Homo sapiens: one gene and its partners. The protein of the gene in region 2 purifies or fractionates together with the protein of the main gene of each other region. This does not show direct contact. Each region holds a gene or a part of one and is shown on either strand. Other genes may lie near its edges.

Region 1 (4,192 bases), on a different chromosome or scaffold from region 2:
GGCTGTGATGCCACCGAGGGGCTCGCCTGCTGATGGCTTCAACAGGGTCTCACCTCATCTTTTCCTGCTCTTTGGCCCTGGATCGAGAAAATTTCCATCAGTGCCCCATTAATATGCTGCCCTGTGGCATCTGCCCAGGAGGCCCTGCCAGGCGTGCACAGGTGTGCATTGGTGTACCCTGGCATGCACAGGTGTGCACTGATGTGCCCTGGCATCCATTGGTGTACCCTGGTGTGCCTGCCATAGGACCCTGGGCGGGAGCTCCCATCTCATCTACATCTCCTGATTCATGCGTTGTTTCATAGGTTTCAATGTCTCTGTAAATGTGGTAGAAATGCAGGCTTTATGGGCATAAAGTGTACATTTCTAAATAAATCCCTTCTATTGAGTATGCTCACCCTAGAAGTTACTGTTGTCCAGACGTAGAGGGATGAGTGAGCCAGTGACCTCAGACGGGATGGTGGGGACGGCAGGTCCAGCTCCTGCCTCCTCCTGGGGGGTCTGGCTTTGGGGGCTTGCTCCGAAGAGGCCATGGCCCAGGCCTGTGGCCTCACAATGGGGACCAACCAGCTCTTCTCATCTTCTTCCCTCACACTTCCTCTCACTCAAATAAGAACCTTCCAAAAATGTGTCCACCTGGGCCCCTGCCCTGGGACTCATGGATTTGGAGTTGTGGCCACACGGTTGAGGGGTGCAGTGTCCAGTGGAATGGGGCAATTGCGGGCCTGGGGGCCCTTGGCCTGTCCGTGGCGGGAGCATCTGCAAGGAGGAGCCCCAGAGTCCAGGGAGCACTGTGGGGAGCTCCTTAGAGCTGAACTCACCCGGCGTCAACTCATCAACCCTCCACCCATGGACAGGGGTGCCCCCAGCACAGGAGAGGACTCAGCCCTCTGCCCCCACGCACGGTGGGTGCCTGTCACCCTGTCCTGCCCAGCGGCCCGAGGGCAGCAGTGGGTGTGAGGGCAGCCCCCGGCCTCCCAAGAGCAGCTGAGAGGATCCCTGCGGGAATCCGGGCTTCGGGTGCATGCGATCTGATCTGAGTTGTTTCTGACAGTGACAGAGTGACAATCTATAAGTATCTCAAGATCAAATGGTTAAATAAAACATAAGAAATTTAAAACGATTAAAATATGCCTCAGTCTTGGGAATCCTGGTGTCTGCAACAAAAAAACTTGAGGCTGTCCTTGCAAACGGTCCTCATGGTGCTGGGGGTGGTGCCAGGCCCGGCGTTTGCCTGGAACACAGAGCATGCGAGAAGGAGCAGAGGACGTGGGTGCCAGGGAAGGACCCTGGCGTCAGAGCCAGGGCCTGGACCTGAGTTACCCATTAACGGCACTCCACTGGTTTTCCTTTAAAGAAATGAATAAATACAACTGCAGTGGGGCTGCTTGTGGTTTCCAAACGTCGGCAGAGGCTGGAGACGGCTCTCTAGTGCTGGGTGTGGAGTGAGGCACCACCCTTGCCCTGAAGCCTGGGGCACTCAGTCACCATGGCTCATGCCCCAGAACCGGACCCGGCCGCCTGCGACCTCGGGGATGAGAGGCCCAAGTGGGACAACAAGGCCCAGTACCTCCTGAGCTGCACTGGGTTTGCCGTGGGACTGGGGAACATTTGGCGGTTCCCATACCTGTGCCAGACCTATGGAGGAGGTAAGCACCCACCTGCGTCCTGGGGCAGACCCCTAAGCAGGGGAGGCCGTCTCCACCCTGACCTGCCAGGCGCCTGCCACGCATCCCCAGTGCTTGGGCAGAGTCACTCCTCCTGGAAACCAGGGTGCACCATTGCCCACGGCAGAGTCAGTCCCCTCAGGGCCCACCTGCAGTCTTCTGGGACCTCAGGGCAGCTTCACCACTGCCCACAGCACGGAGGATCCAGTCCCCTCGGGGTCCACTATGGTCTTCCGGGACCTCAGGGCAGCTTCCTGCCAGGCGTCAGGTTGAATGGGCCGCCCTGCCCGACACACACACCCTACAAACAGTGAGCGCTCTTCCATCTGAATGTCGTCAGTTCTTTAAAGAACACACAATCCGCTCTGGGTTTCCTCACCACAGCCTTGGTGTGTCCAGACATGTGCTCAGGTGCCCTTCTCCGAGGTTCTTTGCAGGAATTTGGGGGCCCACCCCTCGCCTCCCTGGCTTTGGTTCTCTGGGAGAGCCCTGTGGGGGGTGCCAGGATGTTCAGAACTGTCTGGGTGACTTTAGTGACCTTGGACTCACCACCCCCAGAAGTGCATTGGTGACTGAAATAGGCTCCCACGCACCTCGAGCCTCCCCTCACCCTGTGCCTGCTTCTCTTCATGCAGGGGTCACACTCTGCTCTCCATGTGGCGACACAGGATGTAGGGACAGGCATGAATCACTGCTCTCAGGGAGCCGACGTACAACATCACGCATGGACACCCAGGTCTTCCCCAGGCAACACGGGCAGGGGCTTCCCAGGCCGCAGGGTCCTCCTCAGGCCAGGCCGGGCTGCTTGGTCAGCCTGTTCCCCGGGCCCTCAGCTCCTTCCCTGAGAGCCCCGCACAACTATCCCTTGTTATAAGGTTACTCCTTTAAAGTGTTTTTCCTCCTGCTTAAGAAAAGATTCTCAACAGGCAGAAAATGCAGGAAATGCGCACAAATGGAAAAAACAAAAAGAAACACCCGTCACTGCCACCCTCGGGGCACTGGGGTCTCTTTGGGGCTTTGGGGCTGGAGAGGGTGCATTGGGCCTTGGATCTTCTCATCATGAGAGTCCCTTTGAAGGCATTTCTGAAAGCACCAAAGCCCAAGGGCAGAGGCGTCCCTGGCTCCCGGGGCCCTCGCTGCCTGTGCTGCGGCTCGATCTGCTAAGAGTCACCAGAGCATGCAAGGTTGTGGGGGCAGCAGGCTTCACGCAGAGCTGGAAATGCCGGCCAACGCTTTACCCACCAACGCCTTGTTCGCCAATGCCTTGCCCACCGATGCCTTTCCTGCTGATGCCTTGCCCAACGCCTTGCCCACCGACGCCTTGCCCACCGATGCCTTGCCCACCGATGCCTTGCCCGCCGACGCGCCCAACGCCTTGCCCGCCGACGCCTTGCCCGCCGACACCTTGCCCGCCGACCCCTTGCCCGCCGACGCCTTGCCCGCCGACGCCTTGCCCGCCGACGCCTTGCCCGTCGATGCCTTGCCCGCCGATGACTTGCCCGCCGATGCCTTGCCCGCCGATGCCTTGCCCACCGAAACCCAGTTACCATTGCTAAGCGCCTGCAGTGTACTGGAAGTGTCTGGCACTAGCCTCCCTTAAACTCAGCTGCTCCACGCTGGGGCAAAGCTGGGGAGGCCCCCACCTGGGGTGCTGCTGAGGAGGGAGAACAGCCCTGCCCGCCAGCTGCGCGGGGACTTCAGGGCTGCTCCACTCATGAACGACTCTACCATCAATCTCCTGATGCAAGCCACCGGGTTGCATGTCATGAAACATCCAAGTTTATTTAACTCACACACTTCCTAAGGGCCGTGCCATCAGCATTCTCACCCTGTGTGTGAACATGCCCTTCACTTTGTCTCGCTGTGAGGATCACTCATTGATGATTTTGAAAACAAGATATAATTAAGAAGCAGGTACTGTGTAGCTTTTAACATTTGCATATACTCATGACTACCAAAGGCGAATATTATTTGCTCTCCCATTCATAAGTATTCAACTACATAAATGTTCTCTTCAAAGCTAAGACTTGTAAAGCAACATTGTAACAGAATGTAGCAAAACGTTGCGGTAAAGATTTACAGTGATTTTCTCACACCTATGACATTTCATGGCAGCTGCTTTATTACACATTCAGCGTCTTTAAATCAAAGGAACGTAGACTCGTAAATGCCAAGCGATGGGTTCAGGCCAGCTGCCCGGGACACTCTAACACTTGCTGTGGTTTAAGGTTTCAACCCAGGAAGCTTTTATGACTAAGCTGGTGGCCCTGGGCTGGCTGTGTCCACACACGTGAGGTCACTCATCAAGCGCGCCCCCTCCCCGCTACTTCCTGCCTCCGGTGTTCAACCGACTTCTGTATCTGGTAGGTGCTGTTGAGATCTGTGGATTCTTGCACCAAAAACGACACTGTATTAATTACTATGGCTTCTTCGTTAGTCTCGACGCCTAGTAGTAGAGCAAGGCCTTTTTTTTTTATTCTTTGAACTTTTGCCAGCTGCTACTTTTCCTCTGAGCTTTACACCAG
Region 2 (4,042 bases):
ATTGCCCTTCGGGACTGAAATTGGGCATCACTTGATATCATTTCCCATGGGATATTTTTCCAATGAACGCTCACAGTTCTTGCTATGTTGCAAATGTTTAAAAACTCTACTAAGACTGTATAATGAAATATGTGTTGTTAGTGCAACTGTATTAAATATTAAACATATAATTCTAAGTTGATGTTTTTCAGAATTATTTTCAACGACCAAGAAGAATATAAAAAAGAAACAAATCACCCTTTAAACAGAACCACTTTAGTGCAAAGTAAGAAAGAATATCAGCTCCTGCTAACACAAAGAAGGTTTGAATGAGAGATGACTGCAGATGGTGGCCTGGGGATTCCTATGAGGACACACCCTAGCTTTTCCCTTTTATAACAAGGTTCATGAAATCTCTTTATTAGTGCTGTGGACTCATAACATGTGATTGTCTTCCTGTGAGGAATTAGTTATTAAATGAAAGAATTAGGTTTCAAAACAGGGAATCACTCAATTGGGAATATCATCACCCCCAAATTTATTTATGCAGATTAAAAACCATCACTAGATGGTATTCATTGGCACTTATTTAAATCTCAAAGTCACAACTTTATGCATGTATTACCGGACACGTTGAGATGCTGCCTATCACATTAATTAGCAGATACATAGCTTGTAATACTAGGACAGCTTCCCATTCCCCCACCTCTTTGTTTTTACTCTGTTTCCACCCACTCAATAGCCCAGGGAGCCAAGATTTGTTTCATGACTGTTCAGTCCAGTGATTTATTATAAAATCATTTTTGTTCAAGTACTACTGAGTTGAAACCAATTTATTTTTAGGTTTTAAATCAATAGAAAATTATTTTAAAATATATATAACTAGTGAACATAAAGAATCCCCAAAGGACAAAGACCAACATTTGCTTTGTCACTCTGAAGCCACACGCTGCACACTCACAGATGCCAAGGAAGGGAGGACTGCATGGAGCCGGCGGCGTCTGAACGTACCTGTCATGGTAAATCCACCAACCAATAAACCAATATCTCGGCCACCAACTATGATGGCTTCGCTGCGCTCTTCTGCGCTGCCACTGTTTTTGGTTCTCCAGGCAGCCCATATTCCAACCAGCAAAATTAGAAGGTAGAACACGATGATAGCTATCAGTCCTTCCACATGGAAAGCCATTTTTATCTAATGATCCAGATTCTTCTGCAGCTGGCTACTTCATTAAGTCTTCTGAAGAAAATACAGGGATGCATTATAAACCAGTCAAGCACTATGCACATGTAGGCAGCCAGGAATAAACCAGCTGGCTCATGCGAGATCCTGTGCCACTCACAGAAAGAGTACAACCCTGAAACCACACGTGAAACGGGCAGTTAACAATAAGTGTCCACTACATTATCCTACTTCTATTTAACAATTTAACATTATTTTGAGTTTGCAAGAAACAGAAAAAAAAACGGAAATGTAGTTTAACAAATGGAATCATAATCCTTGTGTGTTTCATACATGCTTTAAATTTAAAATTAACCTTGTCGTGTATATCTTAACTCAGTAACTGTCAAATCATTTACAAAGAGTAGCGCTGTATCTGCGTTTTGGAACTAAGTTACTCTTCTAGAATTATTTATTCTAGAAGTGTTAAGTGTTTCATAAATGACCATTCTGAAAATTTTAAAATATTCATTAATTTATTCATTCTTTTATCTGTCCTTTCAAACAACTTCAGAGAATGGCTTCAGTAGTAATCTGATATAAAAATATCTGAAAAAAATCTTTAGAAAAATCCATTTCAAAAACACATCAAACTCCACATTTTCAACAAGCTTCTGTAGTTCAAGTTACTATAGCAACTAAGTATGTTTTTTGTTGTTGAAAGGATCCATTCTCTTGATCTTCTTCGCCCAATATCCTTCATTCAATTCATCACCCCCCATTAATGGTACATACAGGAAAAGGTTTTGTTGTTGTTGTTGCTGTTGTTTTAAACACAATTGCCTAAAAGCACATCAGAAGCCTCAAAGATATTAAAATCAAGACTCTTAGAAGACAGATGTCAAGTTCGAAAGCATTCACCTTCTGAAATTCTTGTCCCCTTTTATTTTTATTTTTATTTATTTTTTACCTTTGTGACCACAGCTGTTCCATGAACCCAAACTCTCACATACAAGTTTCTGGGGGAAACTCTGACATTTGTGCGTGCAGGTGGGTGAAGAGACGTTGGGGGAAAGAATCAGCCTCTCTGGAATTTAAAGGAGGCAAAAGAAGCGCCCGCGGGCTGTGTCTTCTCTGCCTTTGTGAGCAACCAAGCAGGCAAGTTCCTCTCCGCAGCAGCCCGATGCTCTCCCGGCCCCCTGCGGCCTTTCCTCGGCCCCCTCTACCCATTTCCTGCGCCCAGACTTTGTAGCCTCTTGCACCCTGACAGCAACGGTGCCAGACAGCAAACCCGCCCTCGCATCCCACCGAGAGGGAAAAACGCCGCGTCCCTCCCCTCTAAAACCGCCCGGGCTCGGTGCCCAAGGCGTTTCCGAGGGTGCGGGCCCGTAGGCGCAGGAATGCCCGCTCCGCTCCTACCTGGAGTGGTGGCTGCACGCGAAAGCGCTCCGCCCGGGGCCGCCGCCCCCTGGAACCGCGAGGGGTGTGGGTGCGAGGGTGCAGAAAGGGAGGGTGCGGGGTGGGTCGGGGTGCAGTGCGGAGCGGGGCCGGGCGGTCAGGGCGGCTCCTCACTCGGCGTCTCCAAGAACCTGGGAGCGCGCAGAGTTGACAGGTGTTGGCGCCGGCGGAGGGCGCGCGGCGCAGGGCGAGGTGGGAATCGATCGAGTATTGGGAAAAGTCCCCTTTATAAGGGCGGCAGGCGGGGGCGATCGTCAGACATCCGGAGGCGGACGTCAGAGGAGAGTGGTGCTAGGGCGTGTGCTAGGGACGCTGCCCTCGCGAGGAGGGTGGGTGTGCGGGATGCGAAGGAAACGGGGCCCAAGGAGCTGGGGGGCAGGCTGGGCTCTGGTCCGCGCTGCCAGCCATGGTATCCCCATCCTGAGACAAGTACCTGCTACTCCCATCTCCTCCTCCAGAAAACTGGGCGGAGATTCCTTAGGGTGATTCCCAGTCGAACTTCTCATCCCTCTGGTTGGAAGCTGGGAATGGGGAGGGTCTCAGAGGATTATATTTTCAGAAGCAGCAGCTGGAAGCCTAGAGGAGAGAAGTGTCCTGTTCTTTTCTTCCCAGGTCAGAGTCTGGAATTGTTTCCTGACGAGTCTCTCTGAGAGGGAAGGGGTCCTCTCCCGCGGCCTCCCCTGGGCCCTGTTGGAAGCTGTTCCTGGCGTCCCTGGTGATGGGCTCCCTGAAGGAGACATTTCAGGAAGGTTTAGAAAGTCCTTTTTACATTCATACCCCTGCCACTTAAAAGTAGGGCTACCATGAAGGACACTAGGCGTGGTCCAGATTAACAATGAGGTTATCACAGAAGTCAGACAAGATGGCTTTCCTGGTAGAGCCCTTTGGGCAGCTGGCCTGCTGAATATCCTATTCCAGCTTACAAAAATTTGCTGTGTTAGTTTACAATATATCCATATACCTACCTATTTTTATAGATTATTTATATATTACACATATAAATATGTATCTATAGATGTATTTCTACATCTAGGTGTACATGGATAGATGCAGATACCTGTGTGAATGTGAATGGAGGAAGAGAGAAGGGTGGGAGAGAATAAGATAGAAGAGTCACAAGCCACAAAGCTACAAGCACTCTGGCCACTTTCTCACTTCTTTCCGCATTCCACCATGAGAGTGTATTTAACAGTGAAATACACAAGTCTAATAAGGGATAGAATAAATAAGAGTGCCTCTGAACTACTGTTCACCTCTCTAGGCCAATCAGACCATCTCCCCTTTTCTTACACTGGATTTTGAAATTAACTTCCAAATTTATGTTACTACCCCTTTTCTTTCTTCTCTGTATAAACAATAACTGCATCCAACTACCTCTTTTGAGGTGAGAAAGCCTAGGGAGTTCAAACAGAAATTAAGACGGGCCAAAAGGCCTGCAAAGAT
Region 3 (3,500 bases), on a different chromosome or scaffold from region 2:
CCATCCACAGTATAAAAACAAAGAATCATGCCCAGTTTCTTCACCTTATTCAGAGATAAGTTTTTAAAAAGTAATAGTTATTATGAAATAGATTGCTTTGTAGGGAATTTGGAAATTACTGAAAGGTACAGAAACCAGTCACCCATAATCTCACAGCCTGTAGGTAACACTAAGTAATTTTATCGTTTTTTTGTTGTTAACATTAAAAAAAGAATTATATGCACAATTGTATTTACTACCATTTCCACTCTACATTTAACTTAAGCATTTTTCCATTCATTAAGTCTTATTTGAAAACTATTTTCTATCCTAATGATTTATTCTTTTATTTCCATTTTTTGGGTTGCTGTAAGTAATGCTGATGAATAGCTACATAGAGAAGGCTCTGCTGGCCATGCGCGCTGGCTCACGCCTGTAATCCCAGCACTTTGGGAAGCCGAGGTGGGCGGATCACCTGAGGTCAGGAGTTTGAGACCATCCTGGCCAACATGGTGAAACCCCGTCTCTACTAAAAATACAGAGATTAGCTGGGTGTGGTGGCATGTGCCTGTAATCCCAGCTACTTGGGAGGCTGAGGCAGGAGAATTGCTCGAACCAGGGAGGCAGAGGTTGCAGTGAGCCGAGATGGCGCCATTGTACTCCAGCCTGGACGACAGAGCAAGACTCCGTCTCAAAAAAAAAAGGCTTTGTGCATGTTTCTTTCCGTGTGTGTGTGTGTGTGTGTGTGTGTGTGTTTTCTTGAGTATACATTTGTGGAAGGGGTATTAGAGTGTGATTAAAATGTAAGGCCCACCAGGCTGGATTTCTGCATCTTTTGTTCAAAATGCTGGGCCCCTAGTAGGTACTCAGTATGTGATTTTTGAATGAAGCAATTTTTGAAAGTTATAATGCTGACATAAGCCCTTGAAGCTTACGCAGGGGCCTTCCATTATCACTTGCATTGAGTATTCACTTCATCACTGGCATTGAATGTTACTTTAAAAGCCCTTGTTAAATAAATTTGTAATACATTGTTTTAACCTGCACGGTTTTATTGCTTTAGAATTGAATATTTTTTATTTTGTATTTGTATTCTGTGAATTTTCTCTGTATTTTTATTTATTTACCTGTTGTGGCATAGATATGTATTTAAATCTTTATGTATTAGAAGGATAGCAACCATTTTTCCTTCTATATGTTGCGTTTTCCCCTTCCAAAGGAATTTCTTTTAAATTTTACATAATTTTGAAATGTAGAAGTTTTTGGTTGTTTTGATTAGCAAGATCTGCCATTTGTTCTTTTAATAATTTTTTTATTGCATTTATGCTTATGGTGTGTGAAATTTTTTTCTTAATGTGCTGTTTTATTATTGGCCATTTCTAGGTGAATATTTATGCTTTGTGAGTCGTTTAGGATATTATAAACAAATACTTAAATGTTTCAAAAGTGTGGCCCCTAGGCCTCCTGCATCAACATCATTTGGGGATGTGGGGGTGCTTGTTAAGAATTTAGATGTCTACGACTCACCCTTAGCCTCTAAATTAGACTCTTTGGTGGCAGTGCCTGGGAATCTTCATTTTAACAAGTTGACAGCTCCGTTTTAGCCCCTGAGCATTGGAACCACTGATCCGGATATGGTAAACCCAGTAACTGAAAATTAACAGTATTTTGAAGATATAGTAGTCCCTCCTTATCTGCAAGGGATGTGGTCCAAGACCCCCAGTGGATGCCTGAAACTTTGGGTAGTACTGAAGTCTGTATATACCATGGTTTTTTCCTATATGTACATACCTGCAATAAAGTTTAATTAAAAAATGAGGCACAGTAAGAGATTAACAATAATAACAAAACAGAACAGTTCTAACAGTCTACTGTAATAAAACGTGAATATGCTGTATCTCAAAATACCTCAGAATATCTCAAAATATCTTCAAACTGCAGTTGTCCTCCGGTATCCGAAACCTTGGAGGAGGGGGACTACTGTATACCATTGGTATCTTGCAGTTGTCTTTTCACTGTTAGAACAGCTAATTTAAAATCGTTATGTTGAGGCCGGGCGCGGTGACTCACGCCTGTAATCCCAACACTTTGGGATCACCTGAGGTCAGGAGTTGGAGACCAGCCTGGCCAACATGGTGAAACCCGGTCTCTACTAAAAATACAGAAATTAGCCGGGTGTGGTGGCAGGTGCCTGTAATCCCAGCTACTTGGGAGGGTGAGGCAGGAGAATTGCTTGAACCCGGGAGGCAGAGGTTGCAATGAAATGAGATCGCGCCACTGCACTCCAGCCTGGGTGACAGAGCAAGACTCCATCTCAAAATAAAATAAGATAAAATAAGATAAGGTAAAATAAAATAAGCATTTTTTGTTACATGTTTTTGCTTGGTTTTGTTTGGGTTGGGAGTGAAAGGGTGCAGAGGACTGCATTTTCAATGCTCACTCCTGCCCGTTTGGGAACAGCTGCTGCAGTGCTTGTCAGGAAGTGCCTCACTTAATTCTGAAAACAGAACCCAGCCAGGGAGTTGTTACAAGTCACTAGGGACGTGGGAGCCACAGGTTTTCTATCAGTGCCCTGAATGATAGAGGCAGCTAATTACCGTCATTATAATTACACTAGGTTGATTTTCCCAGATAGGAAGACACTGTTCTAACTGATCTAATTTGTTTTCAAGTTGTGACCACCCACCTTTCATCTGGAGCTCACAATGATGTGATTTCTTTTTCTTGTTGTTAGGCAGCAGGATTTGTTAAAAGGTGAGTTAAAAAACCTGGGTGTGTGCAAATGCAAATCTGCCTGTAACTTTGTGACTATGGACAAGTTACCTTGTCCTGGGTTTCCTCCTCGGTGTAAGAAAGGGTTAATGAGATTAGCGCTAATCTCATTAACCCTCTAGCTCCTTGTAGCTCATTTCTCCCTGTAGCTCCTACATATCAAGTCAACATCTTGGATGTCTTGGAATGCACTTATAAGCAGCATCTGTCCTTTTTCTGTTAGGTTGTTTTGTCATTTCTCCTTGCCTGGTAGATGTTCTAGGCCCATGACCTGCTGAAGGCAGCTCACTCTCACCATTGCAGATGGCTCTTCTTTTTAAAAACTCCCTTTATTCTTCCCTCTTGCATCCACACACTCAAGACCCATACTTTGCTTTCTCTTATTCTTTCTCTTTGTCTCTTTCTTTTTTCCATCTCCTTTGTTAGCTTCAGGCAATTACTTCTCATTAGTGAAATTCTAATCTTGTGGTCCCCACACTCTGAGCATCATCACTGCCTCTTAGCTCGCATCATCACTGCCTCCACTGCCTCGTAGCTTGTTAGAAAATGCAGAATCTCAGGGCCCACCCCCGACCTTCTGAATCAGAATCTGCATTTGACAAGATCCCCCTGGTGATTTTGCATGCACAATTGAGGTTTGGGAAGCACTGGGCTAAGAGGTAAAGTGCCTTCTGTTCTAGCCTTCTGGGAATAGGTATTGTTGGAACATTGAAGGCTAAGTCAGCCTGGACTAACTCTGGAGCTATGTA
Region 4 (3,500 bases), about 26 Mb from region 2:
ATTTCTTGCTAAAAGCTAAATTGGATTGACTCTATATTTTATATTTTCAGGAGTGCCCTTGGAGCCTTAGGGAGTAATACCCAGTGATTTAGAATAAGAAGAACTAAGATAAATGATCAGTTTCAAAGAGGCATTACAGTCTTCAGGCTTCTGTAGGGAAGTCATCTTTTTAAAAATCACCTGGGACTGTATTTTCATCACAGTGAATCTTGAAAGATTCTTCTTGCAGTGGCAGAGTGAGGAGAGAACTTTATGAGTATCTGGTCTCGCTCATGTCTCTCCTCTTAGTTGATTTTCTTTAGTCTTGTTTCATCTTTCCCCATCATGCTATTCCTGGGAAAACTTCATCCTGGTGGGTGGCTGGTAAATTTGGTTATTTACTTGGTGTAAGGTGTATTTCAAATCTCTACTTTCCTTGCTCATCCTTTTTTTTTTTTTTTTTTTTTTTGCAGGGTTGGGGGTGGGATGGGGTGAGGTTAAAGATCTCACAATCAAGTCTACAATCCATTTGAAGTCTTCATGTTATAAATATGCTTTATTGAGTCCATTAGCACAAATCTAATTGGAGCTAAATAATTCAATCTGGCCTAAGAATACAAGGTACAGATGTGCATAATGCTACTGAGACCAGCTTAGGCTTCATCCACTTGCAGGCTTTTTCTCTGCTGTTTTTCCTCATTTTTCTCATTTGTGGAGCTGCAGATATTGCCTTTCATGGTCATGTTGTTGTCAGATCCCAGTAATTAGACTGTAGGCCTCCAAGGCAAGTTGGTCTTTTCTTTTTTATGAGTAAAAACCATTTTAGCTTTCCTTGTGGGGAATCCTTTTGAGTCTCTGAATCATTCACAAATATGGTAAGGTCTAATTTTATCCCGTAAGAAGATAAGAGAATATTTCACTTTTCCTATTCAGAGATTCCGCCCTCTCCCCAAGCTTTGCTTCTCTCTGCTTATTGCTTTGGGATCATCTGCAGTGGCAGATGGCTTTATGCAAATCAGGCCAATTACTTTGGTTATAGTAAAGATCACCTTGCATTATGAGTAACTTCCAGATTAAGTAAAACTGACATGTTTCTTTGAAAACTTACCCAGACTGAGAGGGCACACTGTCTTGTGCTGACCCATGAGGCTATAGCTCCACACGTCTCTGCTATCTTAGTGACCCCTTTAAGGACATTCCCTCACTCTATTGCTCATTAAATTTTATAGATCTACCTGGCCATAGAAAAATTATTTTCAATGCCTGTTAGCCATATTTCATAATCTCATTCTTTATTAGTAAACGGGTGATAATGCTGTCTTCAAATTTTATGGCTAGTTTTGACAGAGAACAGACACCAATATAACTTTAATGCATTTCTCATTTTTTTGCTAGAAATTAAGTTGCCTAATAGTCTTTGATAACCTTTGCTGAAATAATTTCTATAGAATCAAGTTCTTTTTTCCTTTCTCTTTCCTCCTCCCCTCAATTTCTAAACCTTATTCATTGACAGAACAATCCATCTTCCAGATTGGCTCTCACAAGATCATCAAGGTTTTTTTTTTTTCTCCTCCTTTCATTTCTTTCTCAGATAGGTTTTACCACCTTATTTCTTGAGATAGTGTGAAGCAAATAGCTAGAAAATGAGGGAAACCTTGACCAATTAGCCCTAAGCTATCAGTGGCATTCCTAACTCAGATAAAGGATTGAGTTCTGTGGCTCCAATGCCATTCCCTTTCCTTTCCAGATATGCCACAGCAGATAAGGATCTTTCCTGTCCATTTGCTAAAGGGTCACAGAGACACCTTACATTCTCATTCCCCAGTGGCAATGTTTCAGTCTTTTAACTTTCTGCCATTAGACTGCCTTTCCTTCTGGTACAGAGATGTGAGGCTTAAATGACTAAGGAATTAATTGCTGTAAAGTACTTCGAAGGACAGATGTAAAGTATAATCTCTTCCTTCTGACCTTTGCTGCTGATTGTTTCATCTGAGAGGGCACTTGTATCTGGAATACTAGCTAAAAGCATGGGAATTTGGCTAATAATAAAAATAGCACATATTAATATAGTGCTAGTTGTGTGCCAGGAGCTGTTCTCGGTGCTTTTTATGTATATTAATTCATTATAGATGAAGCTGCATATTTAGTGTCACTGATGCTTTTTAGGTTGAAAATTGGTGTCCTCATTTACCTTGGAGAGCAAAAAATCCCTACGAAGAAGCTGATCATAATTCATTGGTAAGTGATTTTGGAAAACTCTTTCTAGACTTGTGCATTTAGGTCAGATGCCAAGTGATACATGTGGAATCTTCTAGAAATGCCAACTATAACCTGAAATAGTGTTACACTGAAAAACTTCTGTATTCGTCTCTGTGGAAGTCTAAGTGACTAAATCAGTCAACCATTAGCATAGGTTTGTTTACTGAGCAATTCTCTGAGGGTTCCTGAATGATAGGCTACTGATATGAGTAAGACCTGGTACGAGCTGTGGAGGCCCTTAGTGATCTAATAAGGCTGATGGCAAATAATGACCATCTCTGTCACAAATGCTGTAATATAGGCCTGTGGGAATTAATGAGGAAGAGGTCATTTTAGTCTGCAAGGTTCAGGGTAGATTGAATAGTGAAGATGACATTGGGGCCGAATTTAAATGATGAGTGAGTTTATATAAGGTCAAGGAGAAAAGGGTATCTCTCGTGTGGGAAAATGAGAGCATAGCAGTTTCAGGGAGGAGAGCATGCACGCATGGTTCAGTTGGCCAAGGCCATAGGTGACTGGATGAGCTAGGCTGAAGGTGAAATTGGGAAGGTAGGAAGGGGACTGTGAAAGTACTTGTTGCCACATTAAAAGCTTAAGTCTTTACTCTTTAGACCATAGATCACTAAACTTCTACAAAATACCCAGATAGTAAATAGTTTCATCTTTGCAGGCCATATTGGTCTCATTGCAGCTCCTCAGTTCTGCCATTGTAGCGCAGAGAGCAGCTGTATATGATATGTAAATGAAGGGGCATGGCTGAGTTCCAGTAAAATTTTATGCACAAAAACAAGCTGTGAGGATTTAGCCCAAGGGCTGTAGTTTGCTGTTCCATGCTGTAAACCACAGGAGTCGTAGGATATTGTTTAGTCAAGAAGGGAAATGAAACTGGATGTGGCGGCTCATGCCTGTAATTTCAGCACTTTAGGAGGCTGAGGCAGGAGGATTGCTTGAGGCCAGCCATTTGAGACCAGCCTGGGCAATACAGCAGGACCCCATCACTACAAAAAATTTAAAAACTAGCTGAGCGTGGTGGCGAGTGCCTATAGTTTCAGCTACTTGGAAGGCTGAGGTGACAAGAGGATCGCTTGAGCGCAAGTTCAAGGCTCCAGTGAGCTGTGATTATGCCACTGCATTCCAGTCTGGGTGGGAGTGTGAGACCCTATCTCAAAGGGGGATAAAGAAGGAAAAGAGATGAGTGTTCAGAATGAGCTATGGTGATTACTGAAAAGGTGGACTCAGCATGTTTGAGATGTTCTATGAAA

What was found. Proteins that work in one complex are often made in the same cells at the same time.
Region 1: the proteins of SLC5A7 (region 2) and SLC6A18 purify together in Homo sapiens (affinity purification with mass spectrometry; one large-scale study listed by BioGRID and IntAct). This does not show direct contact.
Region 3: the proteins of SLC5A7 (region 2) and KIAA1549 purify together in Homo sapiens (affinity purification with mass spectrometry; one large-scale study listed by BioGRID and IntAct). This does not show direct contact.
Region 4: the proteins of SLC5A7 (region 2) and MGAT5 purify together in Homo sapiens (affinity purification with mass spectrometry; one large-scale study listed by BioGRID and IntAct). This does not show direct contact.

Annotation. Positions count from the first base shown.
Region 1 is NC_000005.10:1,223,989-1,228,180, forward strand, and holds the start of SLC6A18 (inactive sodium-dependent neutral amino acid transporter B(0)AT3), read left to right. Parts: upstream 1-1,392; 5' UTR 1,393-1,489; coding exon 1,490-1,649; intron 1,650-4,192. UniProt on the Homo sapiens protein: Does not show neutral amino acid transporter activity.
Region 2 is NC_000002.12:107,985,282-107,989,323, reverse strand, and holds the start of SLC5A7 (high affinity choline transporter 1), read right to left. Parts: upstream 2,801-4,042; 5' UTR 2,561-2,800; intron 1,338-2,560; exon of another isoform or gene 1,220-1,337; 5' UTR 1,169-1,219; coding exon 991-1,168; intron 1-990. UniProt on the Homo sapiens protein: High-affinity Na(+)-coupled choline transmembrane symporter. Functions as an electrogenic, voltage-dependent transporter with variable charge/choline stoichiometry.
Region 3 is NC_000007.14:138,974,890-138,978,389, reverse strand, and holds part of KIAA1549 (UPF0606 protein KIAA1549), read left to right. Parts: intron 1-3,500. UniProt on the Homo sapiens protein: May play a role in photoreceptor function.
Region 4 is NC_000002.12:134,334,072-134,337,571, forward strand, and holds part of MGAT5 (alpha-1,6-mannosylglycoprotein 6-beta-N-acetylglucosaminyltransferase A), read left to right. Parts: intron 1-2,145; coding exon 2,146-2,217; intron 2,218-3,500. UniProt on the Homo sapiens protein: Catalyzes the addition of N-acetylglucosamine (GlcNAc) in beta 1-6 linkage to the alpha-linked mannose of biantennary N-linked oligosaccharides.